Linked DNA regions of Homo sapiens: region 1 is linked to region 2. Evidence: fine-mapped expression QTL. Tissue or cell type: lymphoblastoid cells. Region 2 holds a variant in brackets; the other region holds the start of a gene. All regions are shown on one strand. Distances are from middle to middle.

Region 1 (2,605 bases), 140 kb before region 2:
CTTTCCAAAACTAAAATAATTTTTCCCCTGCAAACATAAAGGAAAGATAATTAGCCTCAGATGGCTTCAATTACCAAAGCATCATATAACTATCTAAGACTGCTAGAAATTCCAACTTAACTTAAATCTTTATGGGACGTACCCCTTAATCAGTTCATTCCCTTTACTCACCAATCACTGCTCAGAATAACCAATCATTTTTTCTAATGAACTATTCTGTGTGCAAATAACCAGAGTTTTATTTTCAAATCTAAAAAGACTTAACTATTAACCATTTTAGTAACAAGTAAAAACCTAACTGAACACCTGAAAATCTTCACCACTGAACAAAAGGTATAACGTTTACCATAATAAAAGCCCAAATAAGATTTGGACATTACAGTCAGTGAGCAGAGCAGAATGAAACAAAAAGGCCAACGTAGGTTTAATGGGGCTAATGCTTTTCAGCATTTCCTCCCTGCATCTGGTTTTTGTCTGCTCACAGGACTATACCTGTTACTGAAATAAGGTTTAAAATGGGTAAGGGGCAGAAAGGGTCAACCCATGTAGTTAATTATCCAAATGAAAGACTAGCCTTACCACATTAAATTTTAAGTACTATTTCTTCAATTTTAACCATTCCCATGTTAAAACACATTTCTTAAATCTCTATGCTTTCTAGTCACACAGTAAAGCTTAGAATAGCCATTCCAAAGTTGAAGCGAAGTCGAACCATCTCGTAAGCAGAATTACCCAGGGACCAAGAAGTGCAGAGGAAGAAAAAGAAAGAAAGAAATGAAGACTCCTATTTACATATCTTTCTTATCCAACCCGGGGACACTGGATTCTGTGAAACATCTGAAAGATAAACAACTCTCCGTTTGTACATCAAGTTTACATCTCAAGTCAGGCACTGAAAGTTCTGTTTTTCTGATGAGAAGCCGCTCCACCACTCCTTTCTGTTGCTGAAGTGGCCCTTACATTCCCGCTAGCCTAATCACAGAAGTGCGCGGCTTTCCACTCCAGGGAGGTGGGTCCCAGTTGGCTAGCCACACAGACCATCCCAGCAACCCCACCCCTTTTGAAGAGACTTTTGCGGAACCTTCATGGACCCCTTGGGCCGCCGTAGCCCCACCCCTTGCTCCTCTAGGTTCAGACGTTAGTGAAGTGAATACTCACCGACGGTATCGGAATGTGCCATTTGGACCGGTCGGCAGCAGCTACGGTTGCCGGTCCCGCACTGAAAAACGACAGTGGTGACGGGTGAGCTCCCAGAAGCAGAAGAATGACAGGCAACACCTGAAGCCACGCAGCCGCCGCCATCTTCACAGCCGTGGAGTGCCTACCGAAAGCATTTCACCCTCTTCCGGTTCGTCCCGCCTTCTTCCGGCTCTGCTCTAAGGGCGGGATTATCCGGGTCCTGGAAACGTCGCGGAGCTTGTTTGCTGTGCGGCGTAGCGGCCCCTCTCTCAGACAGTCGTCTGTGCGCCGTGAGACTTTGGACCTACTGCGCAGGCGTCATCCTGTTGGAACCTGGTCAGCTGGGTTAGAGAGATCGCTACATGCCAGCCTGGCCTGAGTCTTTTCTGTCTCCCAGCCGTTAAAGGTTTTAGGACCAGGCAGGCACCCCGTGCAGGATTTGGCTCTCTACTTCCGCTCGCCCCAGCCCTTCATCCCTTCTAAGTCAATGTCAGACTTTGGGGCCAGAAAGTCTGGAAAAGCCCTAAGCCTGGCTGCCCAAGTGGCGTCTAGTAGTGAGTTCTCCGGTTTGGGTGGTATTTAAGCAAAGGCTGGAATTCGGCGGTGGTGGAGTACACGCGATTCCTAGACTGGGTAGTGTAACAACCTTCAAAGGCCCCTTCTAGCCCTGAAGAGTACGATGCTGCAGTACAATCTGGCTGGAGACCTAGCCTCCAGCAAAGACCCGGCCGGCACTTCCCACCCTTAACCGAAAACGGAGACAGAGAGGGTCAGTTTTCAAAATCTGTGGCGTGACCCCGCCACTGAGATAGATCTGCAGATGCTTCGTCCCAGTCAGGGAGGCCGTCTCGGCATTTCCAGGTTCTTAACGCTCTTGATTTTTACCCTCTAGGACTCATTGCGTACACGCCCTCACCGCCGCCCAGTTTCGGTTCCTAACAAAAGCACGTTCCTCATCAGCCACCCATAATCAAGACAAATTTGCCAAATAAATCATTGTAGAAACGCTAGTTTGGGCCTGAAAAATTCCAGGAGCAAGAGTCAAGATTTGTCACTCCATGAGAATCTGGAGGGGACTCCCTTCCCAGAAACTTGACGATGAAGTACTGGTTGTAATTTTAGAAAGACACCCAATCGGCTTTTTTAAAAGATCGCCCAGGGCCCTTGTCCTGAGAGCTGGGAGCTGGTCGGAGTGACAGAGAAGCCATGGAAGCAGCAGTGAAAGAGGAAATAAGGTAAAGGCCAAGTGCTTCTGTAGCGAGTGACCCCAGGGTCCCTAGAAACAGGGAATAGTGTTTTAATTGCATTTCTTATTTGCGTATTTGGTATTTGCTGACCTTTATCTTTTCTCTCAATTCGCGGGAAGTTAGTTGATATTAATAGCCTCTCATAAAATACTTTCAGGATGGTTAAATAGGCCGGGTGC
Region 2 (2,500 bases):
GAAGATCTAGGAGAAAGGAAACAGTAAGCCACTGCTTCTTGGAAAATCTTCTGGGGGTCTGACCTGCTGGGACTGTTCCCTTTCCTCTTGCCCCGTAAGATTCCTAGGGCGGGGGGGGGGGGGGTCACTCTTTTCTGATCTACATTCTGATCTTGGGACTTCTTTCAGTGGCTGCAGCTCACCATGTATGCCTGAACCAGGCTGGCCTCATCCAAAGCCATGCAGGATCACTCAGGATTTCAGTTTCACCCTCTATTTCCAAAGCCATTTACCTCAAAGGACCCAGCAGCTACACCCCTACAGGCTTCCAGGCACCTCATCAGTCATGCTCCTCCTCCATTTTACCCCCTACCCATCCTTGATCGGTCATGCCTAGCCTGACCCTTTAGTAAAGCAATGAGGTAGGAAGAACAAACCCTTGTCCCTTTGCCATGTGGAGGAAAGTGCCTGCCTCTGGTCCGAGCCGCCTCGGTTCTGAAGCGAGTGCTCCTGCTTACCTTGCTCTAGGCTGTCTGCAGAAGCACCTGCCGGTGGCACTCAGCACCTCCTTGTGCTAGAGCCCTCCATCACCTTCACGCTGTCCCACCATGGGCCAGGAACCAAACCAGCACTGGGTTCTACTGCTGTGGGGTAAACTAACTCAGTGGAATAGGGCTGGTTACTTTGGGCTGTCCAACTCATAAGTTTGGCTGCATTTTGAAAAAAGCTGATCTAAATAAAGGCATGTGTATGGCTGGTCCCCTTGTGTTTTGTTGTCTCACATTTAGATATCAGCCATGCATGACTGAATGGCTTCCAATCATATACTCACCTATCACCTACAAGAGAACAATGAAAAACACACACAAAAACAAAATCTTGAATTTTGTAATCATGCCTATTGCTATTTCTTGAGCATAAGAATGGCTCAGATACTTTCCAAGACATAAAAGGAAGGCAGAGGAATAGTTGTTGCTGTAAAAGACATCAAGAATAAATGGGTCATGTACAACGGGAGGGGCCGGTTACCTGAATAATGGAGTGGAGATTGAGCTATCCTAGCTCCTCTGCTCACTAACTGACCTGTCGCATGACCGTGGACAAAACCCTGAACGCAGCTGTTTGTTTGCTAAACTTCTCTGGACCATGGCCTGCGGCATATCTATAGGCATCCTGTGTTTTCCACCCAGTTTCCTTCTTCCTCGCTAAGCCAACGTGGAAAGGGCTGGCCGTGAATATGCAGACAAGGTA[A/C]CGAAAGTAAACCGTCAATTAGTAAAAGTACTTTATTTTCCTCTTGTATTTGCTTTATATCTTGCTTTACAAAGTTACGAAGTTCACAGCTTTATACCAAAATGTAAGAAGGCTATTTGCTTATAAACATTTTTGCAGTCAGGTGTCATCTGATTTCATTCTTCTAATCCATATTCAATATTAAAAAAATCAGAAACCAAGGGTGCTGGAGCAGCTCTAGGGCATATATTTCTCTTAAATAGGAGAAAGATTTTCAACAGCTTTTCCTCCTTGACCCCCTCCTTTCCCAATTTATTTGGGTCACTACCTTGAATTTAGAGTGAATCTGGGAAATGTAGTCACCAGGTAACCCAGCAGGGCCATATACTTGGGCTTGGAGGTGAGGTTAGAGGTTACTGTCTAATACAGTAGGTCTGGTTTCTATGAGGAGCTCATATCCACTTGCATAAGGAAACCTAGTCTATCCCAAATCACCTCCACCACAACTTCTATTCCTGTCTATTAGACCACTTCTCTTAAACCCGAGGAACCTGATGATTTGGGGGCAGGGATAAAACCATTATTTTATAAATGTGGCAGGTATGGCCTTCGTAATTCTAGAAGCTCCCGTTTAGGTAACAGAAACAAAATTTAGATGTAAGCATAAACTGCAGTTATTTGAGCAAACCAGAGCATATGTGCTGTTCAAATCCCACTTCACAATATACTTCAATCTCACCTCCAATGAATTCTCTTCCATAAAATAAACCATTCCACTAAGTATATACCTACTCCCACCAAATCATCCACATGCCTCATCACTAAAGTTGTCCCTTGTATAATCTACCAGCAAAAAGACAAAATAAAACCTGTGTTAAGCAAATAATCACTTAAACAGTAATAATATTGCCTCTAAATTAAAGGTAAGTCAGGAGCTGAACACTCAACTGTTAACTCTTCTGGGGAAGAAGAAAATTTTTCCCACAAAAGCAGGAGTGCAGTAGTAAGTAATGACTTTCTCTCAGATTCAAGTAACATCAGGTCAAGATAACCTTTGCTGTTAGAGTTTTGTTTGCATGGTGTGGAACTGCTTTATAAACTGAGTAGAGACGTATGCCAAAATTATTTTTAACCTAATTAAAAACTTTCACAGAAAACTTGAAGTGACTGATACTTTATCACAACGAACTGCCATTTAAACACTAGCATAGGTACACAAAAAGATTTATACTATGGTTTTCTTGGCTTTAAGCCATTAGAATTAGACAAAAGCAACCGAGAGTAACATTCT

Alleles and levels. Alleles are on the strand shown, and positions count from the first base shown. SD is a standard deviation of normalised expression in the study named.
As copies of C replace A in region 2, the expression in lymphoblastoid cells of the gene that starts at base 1,105 in region 1 goes down (large effect, 0.80 SD a copy in GEUVADIS).

What was found. PIP is the estimated chance that this variant, and not a neighbour inherited with it, causes the effect.
Region 1: GANC starts here. The variant in region 2 is fine-mapped to the expression of GANC in lymphoblastoid cells (GEUVADIS, PIP 0.91).

What each region holds. Positions count from the first base shown.
Region 1 is chr15:42,272,097-42,274,701 of GRCh38, forward strand. It overlaps GANC (glucosidase alpha, neutral C), which reads left to right and starts at 1,105. Exons shown (of 24, transcript NM_198141.3): 1 at 1,105-2,414. The coding sequence starts at 2,386. TMEM87A (transmembrane protein 87A) reads right to left here and starts at 1,337. Exons shown (of 20, transcript NM_015497.5): 1 at 1,159-1,337; 2 at 1-27. The coding sequence starts at 1,302. RefSeq lists enhancers at 687-936, 1,097-1,326, 1,299-2,498.
Region 2 is chr15:42,411,579-42,414,078 of GRCh38, forward strand. CAPN3 (calpain 3) reads left to right here. Exons shown (of 24, transcript NM_000070.3): 24 at 169-739. The coding sequence ends at 195. ZNF106 (zinc finger protein 106) reads right to left here. Exons shown (of 22, transcript NM_001366845.3): 22 at 1,245-2,500. Among named protein-coding and RNA genes, the nearest start is that of CAPN3, 53 kb to the left of the region's middle. The variant A/C (reference allele first, on the strand shown) is at 1,231.